Linked DNA regions of Homo sapiens: region 2 is linked to region 1. Evidence: fine-mapped expression QTL. Tissue or cell type: whole blood. Region 1 holds a variant in brackets; the other region holds the start of a gene. All regions are shown on one strand. Distances are from middle to middle. Region 1 overlaps RANBP3 (RAN binding protein 3). Region 2 holds the start of CAPS (calcyphosine).

Region 1 (8,323 bases):
AGCTTGTAACACTGCCGGGCGAAGCACGCTCCGCTGCTGCTCCTTGGGCTTCTGGCTTGGCAGACCTAGGAACAGAAGGCGGCCTTCCCAGTGCCCGTGGACCCCTGCCTGCCCCCAGGCGCTTCAGAGACTGACCCCTGGCATCCCATTTCATGCCCCTTGCAGGCTAGACTTTGCAGGGAAGCACTTTTTTAAAAACTTGAGGTCTTTTTTTAACAGCTGGCCAGGAGATCTGGCTACTGTTATTTTTACATGTGATTACATGAAACTCCCAGTGACCGACGCCTGTGAATTAATCCAGTTAGCACAGTAACGTGGCGGGGCGCCGGCAGACTCAACAGTCAAGTGGAGACTGTGGGAGGAGAGCAGTGCATTCACAGGCAGCTACCTGGAGGCTCAGGACTCGGTGTGGGGTCACGTACAGGCACATTTTGCACCTGTTTTTCAAAACAGCCATGCTGAGGAAGTCCCTCTGCCAAAGGCAGATGGGACAAGGACCCTTGCATGTGCCCTGCCCTGTGCAGCATCCCCGGCAGCCTCACTAGCAGCCGGCTCACTAGCAGCGCGCCGCTGGAATGCAGCCACCCTGCTAACTGGGGCGAACACTGTGGTATGTGGGGGCCAGAACATGAAGGACAGACAGGCTGAACCAAGTGCGCTACTGCTGGGCATGGAGCCCGCCCGATGCACCCCGCCTAGCCTGCTCCCGTGCCACCACTGCCCACTTTTCTGAACACACGACGCTCACAGTCAGGGGTCCCAACCTCCCTGCTCAGACAGCCTCTCTTTAAAGGAACTTTCCAGGGCTCGTGGGTCAAGTTACAAGTGATCTTTCTAGAAAGCAGGCTGAGCCCGCGGTGCCCTGGTGTGGCCTAGCAGAGGTCTGAAAAACGTCAGAGAGCCACCCCCCGCCCCAGGGAGGTAGACGACCTACCTGCGCTGGGGGCTTGGCCGTGGATCAGCGTTGGTGGCTTCAACCGGAAGCCACTGCTCCTTTCCTCTAAAAGCACAAGACAAAATATCAACAGCAGGCCTGCCTGGGCTGGGGCTGGGCCTGGGGGGCAAGGGCAGGAGAGGACTATGGTCTTGGCCTCAGTGACTTCGGGCCTGGAGAACCAGGGAGAACATTTCCAAATTACAACAGAAGTCTCGTCCGATCAGCAGGCCTGGAAGGCGCCTGGAGGAGGGGAGAGACAAGGGCAGGAGGAACGATGGCTCTTGGGCCAGCTGCTGACCATGGGGGCAGGTGGGGCGTCAGCCGCCCTCCCAGCTGTCTATGACCTGCTGCAGGCTCAGGAGCCGAGCTGCTCAGCGGCCCTGTACCTGGCTCTGGAGAATGTCAGGGAGCCACGGAACACAGGCGCTCAGGCCCCACTTCCCTTTCCTAGAAGGCTTGTCTGTCAGAGGATGCGGCTGTGGCCAGGAAGAACCTTGGCACCACTACAGATGTCTGGGAAGTGAGACAGGTTTTTGTGATGAAAAGGTCAAAGGTGGCACACAGTGAGCCTGCCTCCCCTTTCCAGATGTGCCTGCGGAGCTTCCCGTCTCAGTGAGGGGGCACTCCTGGCCACCGTGGAGGAGGCCAGCTCCCCCTGGGCCAGAGTCCGGGCTGACAAATTCACAAAACTAGAGGGAAAGGTGAATGCCCACGAGCTCCTGGGATGGCTCGAGAGCCCAGCCTCGCCCAGCCACCTGTCCACATGGACCCCTTCATCTGTGTGTCTTGGCAACTGTGCCCATACAGGGAGTGGGGATGGTGGTCTAATCTGATCCACAACAGGAAGGATTGTCATAAAAGGCCTGTGACTCAGGCAGGCAAGCCTGTTCCTGGGCAAGGCACAGAGACTGTGGCATTATGGCTCCTGGAGGTAGCCCTGCGTTTGTGCTAAGCTTCACCCCCTTGTCAAGCTACAGGACACAAGATCAATATACAAAAATCGATTGTGTTTCTAACACTAGCAGTGAATGACCCAAAAGCAAAATTAAGAAAATAATTCCATTTACAATAACACCAAAAGGAATAAAATACTTGGGAATACATTTCACAAGATAAAACTATAAAACAATGTTAGGGCCGGGTGCAGTGGCTCATGCCTGTAATCCCAGTGCTTTGGGAGGCTGAGGCAGGAGGACTGCATGAGCCCAAGAGTTTGAGATCAGCCTGGGCAACACTGCAAGACCCTAACTCTACAAAAAATTAAAAACTTAGCCAGGCATGGTGGTACATGCCTGTAGTCCCAGCTACTCAGGAGGCAGAGGTGGGAAGATCACTTGAGCCTGGGAGCTTGAGGTTACAGTTGAGTTACGACTGTACCACTGCACTCCAGCCTGGGCGACAGAGTGAGACCTTGTCTCAAACAAAACAAAAACATTGTTGGAAGAAATTAAAGGTGTAAATCAAAAGAAAAACACCCCCTCATGCTGTCTGATTGCATTTCTGTGAAATGCCAGACTAAGCAGAAAGGAGCTGAGCGGTTACCAGGGCTCAAGGGAGGGGGTTGGGGGCAGGCTGTGACTAACAGGGATGAGGTTTCTTTTTGGGATGATGGAAATGTTCTAAAATTAATCACGTGATGGTCGCACAACTCTGTGGATGTACTAAAACCACTCAATTGTACACTAAAACGATGACAACAAAACCCAAAACACCTTGTCAGCCCAAATTTTCAGACTCCAAATCAAGATTCAGCAGGCCAAGGAAGACCCCTCTCCCGCTGTGCCCCGGAGGCGCCGCTGTGCCTGGGCAGCAAGAGGATTGCAGCAACCCTTCTTACTATAATAGTTGTATGAGGGAGTCCAGCCCCAGGGGCTTCTGGCAGCCTGTGTTAGCAGAGCTGGTGCCTCTCCCGTAACAGACTGGTCATAAAAAAACAAACTCAGGAGAGCCAGATCCTGCAGGATGCGGGGGTGAGCCGCCAGATGTTCCTTTTCCGAAGGAAACACTCAATTACATTTCCAAAGCACGGAGCTATGCAGAAGACGACTGGCAATTTAGATACATTTTTAAAAGGTCAAATTCACAATTTAGATAGTTTTTAGCAAGCTCTTCAAGCTGGCTCTCCACGCTGATGTTTTGGTCACAGACTGACTACTGCCCTTCCACACTCCGCTCCGTGCAGCGCTGGCGCTAACGCTGAGGGGAGCCTGGGGGCTGGCCCGAGCTGCCAAGCGGAAGCAGGAGACTTGGATAATCCCTGCCACCGACCTGCCACTAGTGCTAGGCCCAGAGCGTGGCCCTCTCCAGAGCTGCAGACAGACAAGGCGTGCTCCAGGGGTAGCCAAAATCTGGAGGTCCCTGTCACAGGCCCTGCTCCACGAAAACAAGGGTGGTCTCTTCTCATTCCTTCCAGAAATTTTCTTCTGCAACACAGGTCGCAACACAAGCTGCTGAATCATGGCCAGAGCCCGACGCCTGCCACATACCCAAAGGGTGTGGGCCTGTAGAGGATGCTGCACCAGTCTCTGAGGGATGCGCATCACTCCAGAGAGGAAGAGGACCCCTCCCGCCGGCAGCCTTTGCCCTCCTGGGAAGCTGGCAGGCTCCCTGTCTGAGGGTGCTTTTCGCCTGCCTCAGAGAGCCCCAAGTGATGTCTGTGGGAAGCCATGCTTGCCCCCCAGGGAGCCCCGATTTAACCAGGGAAGGGATGGGAATGAGACTGTGTGCATCAAATGCTGAGAAGGCAGCCTGGCTGGAGCTGGGGTCTGTGCGTGGACGGCGCTGGTGCAGGGTGGGGAGGAGGCTCAGCCATGCGGTGGGCAGGGAGTGATGCCTGATGCACAGAGGACAGAGGGTGCCGGTTTCTTAGTGCCAGAAGAGGGAGGAATATACCAAGGGAGGCACCCACGTGCCCCTGGCGTCATCTCCACATGCAGGCAGGCAGGCAGAAAGTAAGAGATCATGTGGACAAAGGTGTGTCCCCAGCTCTGTCCGTCATCTCCACATGCAGGCAGGCAGGCAGGCAGAGAGTAAGAGATCATGTGGACAAAGGTGTGTCCCCAGCTCTGTCCGCGGAGGGCCGGGAGCAGGGCTACACCTGAGTCAGTGAGATCGCAGTACCGCACGGAGTGATTTCAGACCTTGGTTTCTAAAGACCATGTTCCCTGAAGAACCAGCGTGCCTCTGAGAAATGCAGATTCCAGGACTGGGATGAGAAAAGAGGCTGAGCCGGGAGGCTCTTGTTGTGACAAAGTAAGGGCAGTGCTCAAATGAACAACGGGGACCTGCCTGACAGGGCTTCCACTGGCCAAATCTGGGACAACCTGAACATTAAATAAAAACCAGTAACCATAGACGGTCACCCACTGATGCCAACAGAAGCTCGCCTGTCTATGTTGACACAATCGATCAAGGAACAAGCACGTGGGGAGAAGGGCAAGCTCCTCCTTCCAGTGAACACCACTAATCAACGCGGCAGGGATGGTGCTCAGAGTATCCCACGGGTGGTGAGTGCCTGTAATCCCAGCTACTTGAGAGGCTGAGGCTTGAGAATCTCTTGAGCTCAGGAGGCAGAGGGTGCAGTGAGCCAAGATTGTGCCACTGCACTCCAGCCTGGGCAACAGAGCAAGACTCTGTCTCCAAAAAAAAAAAAAAAAAAAAAAAAAAAAGGAAGAAAATCCCATGGGGCAGTCGTCAGCGGGAAACATCACTCTAAAGACATCACTGGGCGCGAACACTGGAGGGCAGGAGTGTGATGAGGTACACACAGTCCCAGAGTCTAAAGTGTCTCTCAGAAACCATCCAGCACAAAGGGGAAAGTAGCTTTACAGTGGTGAAACCTGGCAGACAGCACCCTGATCGAGGAGCACGGCCACCCCGTGCTGGTAAGGGGACAAGTGAGTACTGTGCATGGCTTCTGTGACATTCTCATCCAAGATGCCACACCTGGGTCTCACCACCAGGACATACTGGACAGGCCCCAACTGAGACACTTCTACCCAACAGCTGACCTGTAATCCTCAAGGTCATGAAAGTCAAGGGAAGCCTGAAGACCTGTTCCCGATAAAAGTGGAGGTATGTGTGGTAGGACCAGGGTCTCAGTCCTTTTTTCTAATGGACTCATGGAGCTGACTGGAGAAAGCTAAATGGGGTCTTCAGACAAAAGGGACAGAGAAATTCTTCTGTAAGTGTTAAAGCTTTTCAAAATTAAAGCTAAAAAACAGAAGGCAGGCAGACAAGGATGTGAAGTTGG[G/C]TTTGCAGAACTGATGTGTGGCTGATATGACTGCCTTTTCATGCGTGAGGGCACTGGGGCTTTAAACCATGCCGCGTCGGGGCCTGCGAAACAGCTGCCCTGCTCGAGGCTGGAGGGGAAAGGTCTGTGGGGAGAGAGACAGGAGGGAGGCCGTTGCTCACAGACCTCAGAAGCGATCATGAGATTTGTAACAGAGCTCAGCAGCACAAATGGGTCCAGACACACGGCTTTAGTAACTGATCACCTAAAGCAGAACCTGCCTCACCGTGGCAGGCTCTGTGCCCCCATCCAGACCACCACCTGCTAAGCGACACCCCAGGAATAACCAACATCGTGCCCTTCCTGAGGACCCTGAAACACCAAGCCCCTCTGCAGGATGAGACCAGGTGGTCGGCTCAAAACAGTTTGCTTTTAGAGTCAAAATGCCTTGTTGAAACGGGGCCATCAACTCAATGCTGAGAGTTATAAGAACCCACCTCTTCCCTTGACACGGACATCACGCCAGCAGCTAACTTATCTCACAATGCTTTTGAAGTCGGCAATGAATTTATATATGGTAGGTTGGGTTACAGAATTCAGGTTGTTAAACTCGCTTGTTAAATCTTTTATGAGGAATTTCAGCCACGTGGGAGAAACTTTCAGGAAACCTTGGAGTTGGTTCTCCAGTGAAAGACCAAAAAGGCAGGCTCCATATTCTTCAGAAAGGGGGAGCGGCTTTCCTTAAAATTTTAAAGCTGGGGGCCAGACGTGGTGGCTCACGCCTGTAATCCTAGCACTTTGGGAGGCTGAGGCGGGAAGCTCGCTTGAGGTCAGGAGTTCGAGACCAGCCTGGCCAACACGGTGAAACCCTCGTCTCTACTAAAAATACAAAACATTAGCTGGGCATGGTGGCACATGCCTGTAATCCCAGCTACTTGGGAGGCTGAGGCAGGAGAATTGCTTGAACCCAGGAGGCAGAGGTTGCAGTGAGCCAAGATCGCCCCATTGCACTCCAGCCTGGGGGACAAGAGTGAAACTCCGTCTCCAAAACACACAAAAAGTTTTGAAGCTGTGATTAAACATATTTATCTAGGTAGGTCTGAGCAAAATTAATGTGAGAATGCACAAAAAAGAGGTCTAGAAATTCACCAACTTCACAGGCGTTACCTTTGGGATGGCAGGGTGAGTGGGGAAGGGGCAGGGATTCTTTTTAGTTGAAATATTTCTGATTTACTTTAAAGAAAAAACAATTATGGGCCAGGTGCGGTGGCTCATGCCTGTAATTCCAGTACTTTGGGAGGCCGAGACAGGTGCATCACCTGAGGTCAGGAGTTGGAGACCAGCCTGGCCAACAGGTGAAACCCTGTCTCTACTAAAAAAATACAAAATTACCCCGGCATTGTGGTGTGCGCCTGTAATCCCAGCTACTCGGGAAGCTGAGGCAGCAGAATCACTTGAACCCGGGAGGCGGAGGTTGCAGTGAGTTGAGATCACACCACTGCACTCCAGCCTGGGCAAAAAGAGTGAAAGTCTGTCTAAAAAACCAAAAAACCCCAATTATGAATGCATTACTTGTATAAAATTTTGAAAAATGAGTGATACATTTCTTCACAGGTTGTTTTTAGAGGACTTAGAGCTCCATGCAACCAGGCCCTGCTTGCAGAAACAAACATGAGGGCTTATGAAGCCTCATCTCACGCCAGATCCCCAGACTATGAGCTGAAGAGTTGGGGGAAAAATTTTAACAGCTGAAGAAGAACTGACTTTAAATGCCCGCTGAAGATCTGATTTTCCCACACCAATTGCTTTTCCTCCCAGGAGAACCCCCAGGCCGGGCGGGAAGGCAGAGGGGCCGGGGCTCACTTGGCTCTGAGTCGGAATTGCCTGCAGATGGCTCGCAGAAGCTTGATGGCATAAAAACATTGTTTTTTGAAACTGTTGACAAGGAGGTGCAGGCGGGGGAGGGAACAAGAGGAAAAACAGCATGAATGGGTGGGGTGGACGCTCAGAGATCACCTCTCCCACCTGAGGGGTGGATTCTCACGTCCCACGGGAGGAGACGGAACAGCACGCAAACAGGGCATTCAGTCTTTCCCGAGAACAGCAAACCCCAAGACTCTTTACAGCACTACGAGGGTCTCCAGCCCGACGGCCTTGATCTGTCTGATGACTACAGTCAACTCTGGTCAACTGGGGGCACCCCCTTGTCCCTGCACCTCTGCAGGGGCAGCCGGCAGGGGAGATATCAGATGCTCCAGGCCACATTGGAGGCCCTGACTCCTCCTCACCTGTCAAGGCTTGTCCATGGGGTTCCCCCTCCCCCACCTAAGATCTTCCTTCACCAGGGCAACTGCTTCCCAGGGTGTGGGCCAGCCAACAGGTTTCCACAAATGAAGTGGAATTCGTAGGGGAAGAACTCACTCTACGCAGAATGGAACCAAAGACAACACTGTTCAAATTATTGGTGCCCCTCACGCCTCCAGTTACCCTGGAGAGCTGAGTGTCTCTTGGGGGCTGCTGCGCTGGACGGGAGGTGATTTGAAGAGGGCCGGGGAGAAGAATGGTGGTCCCTCGCCTCTTTAGCCTACATTCACAGCCCAAACACCTCCTCTTCTCTATGCTGGTTTTCGATACAGCAAGCATGGTTCAGCAGTGGGCAGTGAGGGGGAAGGAATAAAATCAACGAGCAGGAAGTGGAGCTCCCTCATTCCACAGAACACCTATCCACAGGTGCAAAGATCCTTAAATTAAAAGGATGCCAACTGCAGCCTGGACTGCAAGCCATCTGGACAGTTCCGCAATATCCAGTCAGCAGATGACAGTGTAATAGCACTGGAAAACCTAATGCAGCTGTGCAAAAAGACGCGGCCATGTCCAAAACCAACGTGATGGGAAAAGGGCATGAAAACAAGGGTGTGGAGGGGTGACTTGGGAAGGACCCTGGCTTCCTACGCTGTGTGTTCCTGTAACGCATGCGTGACTTCTGTAAGCAGAAACAACTTGACATCCTGAAGGTTCAGGACTGTAAAATGATTTACATGAACTTTCCAGGAATGGATTTCAGTTGGGTAACCAGAGAACCTGTCTAAACACTCATGTATGTCCAAGTTGGCACTACAGACAGCTAAGACAGAGGCCACGAGACAATGCCAGAG
Region 2 (8,323 bases), 22 kb before region 1:
ACTCCGGGTCTGGAGGGCCAGGGCCACTTCCAATTCTGGGGGAAGTTATTGCTGAAATTCTGTTTTCTTTCTTTCTTTCTTTTTTTTTTAAAGAGACAAAGTCTCACTGTTGCCCAGGCTGGAGTGCAATGGTGTGATCACAACTCACTGCAGCCTCAAAATCCTGGTCTTGGCTGGGCCAGTGGCTCACACCTATAATCTCAGCACTTTGGGAGGCCAAGGCAGGTGGATCACCTGAGGCCAGGAGTTCAAGACCAGCCTGACCAACATGGTGAAACTCCGTCTCTACTAAAAACACAAAAATTAACCGGGTGTGGTGGCGCGTGCCTGTAATCCCAGATACTCGGGAGGTTGAGGCAGGAGAATCACTTGAACCCGGGAGATGGAGGCTGTAGTGAGCCGAGATTGTACCACTGCACTCCAGCTTGGGCGACAGAGGGAGACTCCGTCTCAAAAAAAAATCCTGGGATCAAGCTATCATGCTACCTCAGCCTGCCAAGTAGCTGGGACCATGGGCATATGCCACCATGCCTGGCTGCGTTTTTGCATTTTTTCTAGAGATAAGGTCTCATTACATTGCCCAGGCTGGTCTTGAACTCCTGGCCTCAAGTGATCCTCCCGCATTGGCCTCCCAAGAAATTCTTACTAAACATTTACAAATGAGATGCCAAAACAGCACTTCAGTAATAGTGGTTATATTTTATAGTTCTCTACACAGAAAAAAAAATGCTGCTTGTAACACTCATAGACATGAAAGTATTTCTCTGCCTATTTAAATAATTCTGGATTGCAGTGAGCCACCAGGATTTTGGCAGCCAGATGTCACCATGATTTCTCATAAAACTGATGATGTTACATCAGTGGTGGCCTGAATCAAGATGCTGGGATGCCTGTAACCTACAGATTGGTTTCAGACTCCAAAGGCAACTTTTTTTTTTTTTTTTTTTTGAGACGGAGTCTGGCTCTGCCACCCTGCCACCCAGGCTGAAGTACAGTGGTGTGATCTAGGCTCACTGCAACCTCTGCCTCCAGGGTTCAAGTGATTCTCCTGCCTTGGCCTCCTGAGTAGCTGGGATTACAGGCATGCACCACCATGCCCAGCTATTTATTTTTTTTAGTAGAGATGGGGTTTCAAAATGTTGGCCAGGCTGGTCTTGAACTCCTGACCTCAAGTGATCCGCCCACCTCAGCCTCCCAAAGTGCTGGGATTACAGCTGTGAGCCACCGCGCCCAGCCCTGGCCTCTTTTTTTAAGTTATTTATTTATTTTTGAGACAGAGTCTCACTCTGTCGCCCAGGCTGTGGTGCAGTGGCATGGTCTTGGTTCACTGCAACCTCTGCCTCCTGGGTTCAAGTGATTCTCCTGCCTCAGCCTCTGGAGTAGGTGGGATTACAGGCACCCGCCACCATACCTGGCTAATTTTCTTTTTTTTTTTTTGAGACAAAGTCTTGCTCTTGTCCCCCAGTCTGGAGTGCAATGGCACGATCTCGGCTCACTGCAACCTCCGCTTCCCAGGTTCATGCAATTCTCCTGCCTCAGCCTCCCGAGTAGCTGGGATTACAGGCACATACCACCACGCCCAGCTAGTTTTTCGTATTTTAAGTAGAGACAGGGTTTCACCATGTTGGCCAGGCTGGTCTCAAACTCCTGACCTCAGGTGATCTGTCTGCCTCGGCCTCCCAAAGTGCTGTGATTACAGGCATGAGCCACCGCACCCGGCTGACTAATTTTTGTATTTATAGTAGAGACAGGGTTTCACCATGTTGGCCAGGCTGGTCTCGAACTGCTGACCTCATGATCTGCCCGCCTCGGCCTCCCAAAGTGCTGGGATTACAGGCGTGAGCCACCGTGCCCGGCCAGTTTATTTACTTATTTTTAAGAGGCGGGCGTCTTGCTCTGTAACCCAGGCTGGAGTGCAGTGGTGCGATCATAGCTCACTGCAGCCTCCAACTCCCGGGCTCAAGTGATCCTCCTGCCTCAGCCTTCCAAGTAGGTGGGATTACAGGAACACACCACCATGCCTGGCTAATTTTTTGTAGTTTTTGTAGAGATGGGGGGGTCTCACTATGTTGCACAGGCGGGTCTCAAACTCCTGGGCTCAAGTGATCTTCCTGCCCTGGCTTCCCAAAGTGTTGGGATTACAGGCATGAGCCACCGCGCTCAGGCAAGGCAACTTCTGACAATATAATTGTGCTGTGAGCGAGGTAAAGCCAGGCTTGGAGAAGGCTCCGATTGATGATCCTTGGGTCGGGGCGAACAGTGGGTCCTCAAACAGGGCCCACGTTTCAAGTCCTGGAAAACCCACCTATCTTAGCGGGCAGGTATATCCGATGTCTCCGTTGAAGGCCTTCAGTGAGGTGGCTTCGTCTCTTGAGGTTTATGTCCAGGATCAGGGCTGCTCTTCCACTCGGGGTCACAACCTCTGGCTCACCACCTTGTCAGGAGCCAGCCCACTAAGTCACGTTTCAGGCCTGAAAACCAACAACAAAAGATCCGTAAAGACAGAAATCCTGGGACTGGCTCCTAACAACGGCCAGTGACAAGCTTTGTGGCAGTGAGCAGAGGTGTCCCTCAGGCTCAGCTCAGTCTCTGTGGGTTGCAGGACCTGCCCTTGGAGGTGGGCCTGGGTGGGAGGTCTTAGGGCCCCAGGACCTGGGCCACCTGGGGCTTTTTTTTTTTTTTTCTTTTTGAGATGGAGTCTTGCTCTGTCGCCCAGACTGGAGTGCAGTGGTGCAATCTTGGCTCACTGCAAGCTCCACCTCCTGGGTTCAAGCGATTCTCCTGCCTCAGCTTCCTAAGTAGCTCGGATTACAGGCGCCCACCATCATGCACGGCTAATTTTTGTATTTTTAGTAGAGGCGGGGTTTCACCATGTTGGTCAGGCTGGTCTCAAACTCCTCACCTTGTGATCTGCCCACCTCGGCCTCCCAAAGTGCTGGGATTACAGGCATGAGCCACCGCGCCCAGCCCACCTGGGGCATTTTTGTTGCTGTACAATAGAAACAAGTTCTCTATATGTTCCCCAGGCTGGTCCAAACTCCTGGGCTCAAGTGATCCTCCCACCTAGACCTCCCAAAGTGCTGGGATTTCAGGCATGAGCCGCAGTGGCCGGTCAGAACCTGGGGCCCTTTTGAACTTTGATTCCTCAGCAATTTTGTCAGCCCTGGCTCGGGCTGAGAAGCCCCTGTGAAGCCAGAGAGGGAAAGGGACCTGTCCAGGGTCACACAGGAATCATGCGTCAAGCCTCCCCAGCCACGGACTTGTCTCCATCCAGGGCATTTCAGCCCCTGCAGGGCAGTGGCCTGCCCCTCCTCCTTGGAGCCAGGAAGGGATGCAGTGCCACAGGGATCTGGCTCTGTCCCAGGCCCTGTGGGGCTGGCAGTTGAGTAAGCAGTCAGGCTGGGCGCACCCATCCCTCCCCCACTCCCCACTGCCCAGCACAGTGCATTCATGCAGCTGGGCCCCACCCCATCTCCAGAGGCACCTTCCACTAGCAACAGTCTCCCCAGGCACAACACAGCTAACACAAGGCCCCGCAGGCAGGACTCTGGGACAGACGCAGGCCAGGTGAGCATCTGAACAAGGGGCAGTCGGCCAGGGTGGGCTTGCGGGAGTCCCCACCTTGACCTCTCTCCCTTCCAGCTGCCCAGAGCCCAGACCAAGCATGGACGCCGTGGATGCCACCATGGAGAAACTCCGGGCACAGTGCCTGTCCCGCGGGGCCTCGGGCATCCAGGGCCTGGCCAGGTGAGCTGTCCCCTCTCACCTTCCTGACCCCGGCCCCTGAGACCACTGTTCCAACCGTGTCCCCTGCCTCCAGGTTTTTCCGCCAACTAGACCGGGACGGGAGCAGATCCCTGGACGCTGATGAGTTCCGGCAGGGTCTGGCCAAACTCGGGCTGGTGCTGGACCAGGCGGAGGCAGAGGGTGTGTGCAGGAAGTGGGACCGCAATGGCAGCGGGACGCTGGATCTGGAGGAGTTCCTTCGGGCGCTGCGGGTGAGCCCCCACCTCACAGTCAAGGCGTGTGCCCTGGGCATGGGGCGACAGAGGATGCTGAGATGCGGAGACGGGGACTCCTCCCTAAGAGCTGCTGTTAAGAGGCGCCTGCTGGGGCATACAGCCCCAGTGCTCTGCACAGCGTCTTGGGGGTTTGGGTGTGCTACCCACCACCCCCAGTCACCACCTCCTGTCCCAGCCCCCCATGTCCCAGGCCCGGGAGGCTGTCATCGCAGCTGCATTTGCCAAGCTGGACCGCAGTGGGGACGGCGTCGTGACGGTGGACGACCTCCGCGGGGTGTACAGTGGCCGTGCCCACCCCAAGGTGCGCAGTGGGGAGTGGACCGAGGACGAGGTGCTGCGCCGCTTCCTGGACAACTTCGACTCCTCTGAGAAGGACGGGCAGGTGGGTGGCTGCGCGGGGGGCCCCCTCCCCAGGCAGTTCCTCGGCCGTGCCCCCTCACGGCCCTCTGTTCCCAGGTCACACTGGCGGAATTCCAGGACTACTACAGCGGCGTGAGTGCCTCCATGAACACGGATGAGGAGTTCGTGGCCATGATGACCAGTGCCTGGCAGCTGTGAGCAGCTCCGGCTCAGCCCTGCTGCCCTGGCCTGTCACTCCCCACCCCTGCCGGAGACCTCCCTTCCCTGGGCCCCTTCTCTCCTGGGCAGCCACACCACAGAGCGGGGAGGGGCAGGTGGGGGAATGGAGGCTGCAGGACTGGCTAGACCAGGTCCCTGCCGGTCCACCAGGCGGAGGTGGGACAAAGGTCCTAACAGGAGTCACTGGCTCAGGACCCCAGGGAGAAACGCTCTCCCCACCCACGCCATGCTGACCAGAGATCTTGCAGCCCCTGTGGATGCCCCCGCCGAGGTCCCCCGATCCCCGCACCCGGACTGCTGCTCCCTGCCCCTCCCTTGCGGGTCCCCCAGGAAGCCAGGTGACCCCAGGTGGGAGGCTGTGTGTGGAGGCCATCCTGGAAGGAAGTTTAGACCTGCCCAGGTGTGGAGCGAGGGGCACAGGGGCATCCTAACCTCAGAAACTGAAATAAAGCCTTTGAAAAAAAAATCTGTAAAACATCAACCCCCAATCAGAAGATGGCAAATGGGGAATAAAAATAGCAGGTAACATGTCCAGCGGGCCCAGTATCTACATTCTGGTGAGCGGCCCGAGGCTGGGAGCTCTGGGCGGGGGCAGACCGGCGGGGCCTTGCAGCAGGGGTGGGGGTAAAGTGCGGGTGGTGGTGGAGAGAACAGGGCTGTGGCTGGACCCCAGCACTGGTGACACGCTGGGTGGGAGCATGAGGCCCCAGGCTGCTGGAGGTCCTCGCCCGGGGAGGTGGAGGCCGTTCCTGGTCAGGGGCTTCCTGAGGCCCCTGGGGCATGCAGAGGCCAGGGTTTTAGTTAAAAGTTTAATGTAGTTCCCAAATACATTTCATATGACAATCTTACATAAATGTTCCAAAACACATGGGCGTTATCTCGTTGTACTCGTCACTAGCTGGCTAAGGCTTAAAGCAGAGACGTGTGACTGGGTCTCTCGGGAGGGCCTCTGGTTCTTCCCGGGCTCAGGCTTGCTGGGGGCTGGGGGCCAGGGCTCTGGCGACCTAGAGGTGTGGACGGCACAGCTGCAGGAGGCCTTCTCTTAACCCTCCGAGAGTGGGACTGGGAGATTTCCTCTGAAGTCCCAAAGAGGCCCTGTGCCCAGGGGACCTCCTCCTCGGCCTCCCAGGTGGGTGGTGCAAGCTGGCTCTTGGCCATGCTCCAGGCTCGGGTGGGCACAGGCGTCCACTCCAGTGTGCTGCGTGCTTGTGAGACTGCCTGTTCTGGGACCAGCCCCTGGGCTCTTCCACCAAGATTTGGTGAGGGTCCCCCTCTGCCTCTCACAGAAGCCCCTGGCCCTGGACTGTCCTGGGGGCAGGGACACCTGTGGCTGGGGAAGGGATGGCCAACAGCGGGAAGCAGTTTGCGCCTGGTGCCTGATGATGGTGAACCACGTGACAGATGGAGACGGGAGTCAGGGGACCCTGGGGACCCTTCCAGGTCCAGTGACCTTTTCCCAGACAGGCACTCTCCAGGCCTAGGACAGACAGGGCCCCAACTCCTCATCACCCCATGACTTGGCCTGGAGGAACCTGGGGTGGGAAACAAGTAGTCCCCCAACCTCAGAGGCCAGAACCACAGGTGGGGGACAGGGACCTCGACAGAGCTGTGCCTGCTCAACGCTCGAGAGCATCTTAACCTAAGAAACCAAAACAAAGCCTTCGAAAATAAAAAGAAAAAAAGATGTAAAATATACACCCCCAATCAGAGAGGGGAAGTGGGAAATGAAGATAGTAGTTAACAGCACGTCCAATGGGCCCAGTGTCTACACTCGTACGAGCAGCCCCCCAAGCTGGGCGGGGGTCCCAGGCCTATAGTTGGGGAGCCCTGGGCAGGGGCAGAGGGCTGGCTGCTCCCCACAAAGGCAGGGCCCCACAGCAGGGTGGGAAGGGTGTGGGTGGCGGAGAAGCCAGGGGCTCTGGCTGGACCCAGAGGCTGGCGACACGCGGGGTGAAGGAACGAGGTCTCCAGTCCCAGTGAGAAGCCGTGACAAGTCTTAATGTGCCATTTCAATTCAAAGGAGGGGAGGGAGGAAATGTTCTTGTTTGTTCGCTCATCAATATGATGAGGTCTCGTGTCCCAAACCACATTCAGGCAGTTCCCGAGTCTGCTTTTGAACAGGACGTGCGGGTCCAGACTGTGGCCGGCCCAGTGGGGTGTGTGGTTCCCGGCCCCGCACCTGGACGCTGCCGGTGGGGTGGGGGCGGGTGGGCGGGTGGATAGACGGACAAAGCAGCAGCCTGGTGTGCAGCCGGGCTCCCGGCCGCTATGTGCTCCCGGTCGTCTGCCCGTCCCCTTCGTCACCAGCACCTGCAGGGAAGCAGCAGCCCCGCATCAGGATGGAGCCCGCACTTCCCAGGTCTGGCCACCCCCGCCAGGAGATCAGCACTGGATCAAGGATGGCGGGCAGCTCTTTCTATCCCCCCCAGGGTAGGGACCACCCGACTCACCAGCTGCGGTGGCCCCTGAAGGAGCCAGGACATCGTCATCGTCGCTGTCGTCCTCCTCGTTGGATGGGGCTGCCCCAGGCTCAGGCGCGGGCATCTTGGCCTCCTGCTCCTGCTCCACGCGGCTGCGCAGGGCCAGGATGCGGTGGTGCAGGGCTGCATACAACTGACCTGTGTCCTTGGAGCTGGCCTGGGAAGGGAGGAGGGTATGAGACCCCCGGACCCCAGTCCTACCCCCTCCTGCCTTCTGCAGAACACAAGTGCCAAGTCCCAAGGTTCAGAGGTGACACTGCCACAAGGCCTTGTGGGGAGGCCATTGGCCCTGGGCCTGCCGGCCTCTCCCCGAAAGGATGCCACCACTCCCAGGTGGCTGGGAATATCCCAGAGGTCAGGGTTGGTGGACTCGACTGTGACACCATGACATAGGAGAGAGGTGACCGCCCCACAGGGCTGTTAGCCCTGAACACATCACAACCCCTCAGCCAAACCCCAGCGGCTTCTCTGGGTTGAGAAGAGGACAAGGACCATGATCTCTATTCCTGAAGGCTGGGACTGGCGGGTCCCATAGTGCTTCTTGTGTCCCAGGAAGCAACTGAAGCCCCTCCCCCCTCCCCTCCCCACCGTCCTGCCTGATCTGTGTGCCCAGGAACCCCCACAGGGCTGGCAGGATGAGGGGTCCCAGATGCACCCGCGTGGCTGGCTCACCGAGATCAGGAAGACCTTCACGCCCTGGTCCTCGGTGTCCATGGCTGTGATGCGAATGCTCTTCTCGCTGGCCTTGTCGATCTGCATCTGGGCCCACAGCTTGGTGTTGAGGATCAGTCGCAGGCTCCCCTGGGTCCGCATCACTACAACCAACAAGGCCACTCAGCCCTGGCCCCCACACCGGCCCCCTCACAAACAGCCAGCTCCAAGAGCCAACACAGTCCAGATGGAAAGCGACATCACCGCGCAAAAGCCCATGATCCTCCCAGGACCCACCCACAGAGCAAGACTTCTCCCTGAGGCCAGCCCTGGCACACCTGCTCCCGGGGCGGGGCTCCTCCTCCCCAAGCCTGGACCACTGAAGGCCACAACTGCAGGTGGCTGCACAGGCTGGTGCTGCAGATCAGTGACCAGAGGCCACATGCAGCTTGTGGGAGGTTGTGTTTGGTCCACACAGGTGGGCACCAGGATGGCAGTTCCCTTGGAGAAGGGGGGATTAGAGAGGAGTACGGGGTGGGCTGCGGGAGGCAGGGGCTGACACTCAAGGTGCATGCGCTTTCTGTGTGTGTG

Evidence for each region. PIP is the estimated chance that this variant, and not a neighbour inherited with it, causes the effect.
Region 2: it holds the start of CAPS, and the variant in region 1 is fine-mapped to the expression of CAPS in whole blood (TOPMed, PIP above 0.99).

Annotation. Positions count from the first base shown.
Region 1 is chr19:5,932,480-5,940,802 of GRCh38, forward strand. It overlaps RANBP3 (RAN binding protein 3), which reads right to left. Exons shown (of 17, transcript NM_007322.3): 6 at 935-1,000; 7 at 1-65. Among named protein-coding and RNA genes, the nearest start is that of CAPS, 22 kb to the left of the region's middle. RefSeq lists a silencer at 7,295-7,475. The variant G/C (reference allele first, on the strand shown) is at 5,190.
Region 2 is chr19:5,910,743-5,919,065 of GRCh38, forward strand. It overlaps CAPS (calcyphosine), which reads left to right and starts at 3,512. Exons shown (of 5, transcript NM_004058.5): 1 at 3,512-3,567; 2 at 3,643-3,747; 3 at 3,821-3,998; 4 at 4,198-4,404; 5 at 4,479-5,469. The coding sequence starts at 3,665. The coding sequence ends at 4,580. It overlaps VMAC (vimentin type intermediate filament associated coiled-coil protein), which reads left to right. Exons shown (of 2, transcript NM_001017921.4): 2 at 1-111. RANBP3 (RAN binding protein 3) reads right to left here. Exons shown (of 17, transcript NM_007322.3): 15 at 7,754-7,896; 16 at 7,052-7,238; 17 at 5,397-6,911. The coding sequence ends at 6,868.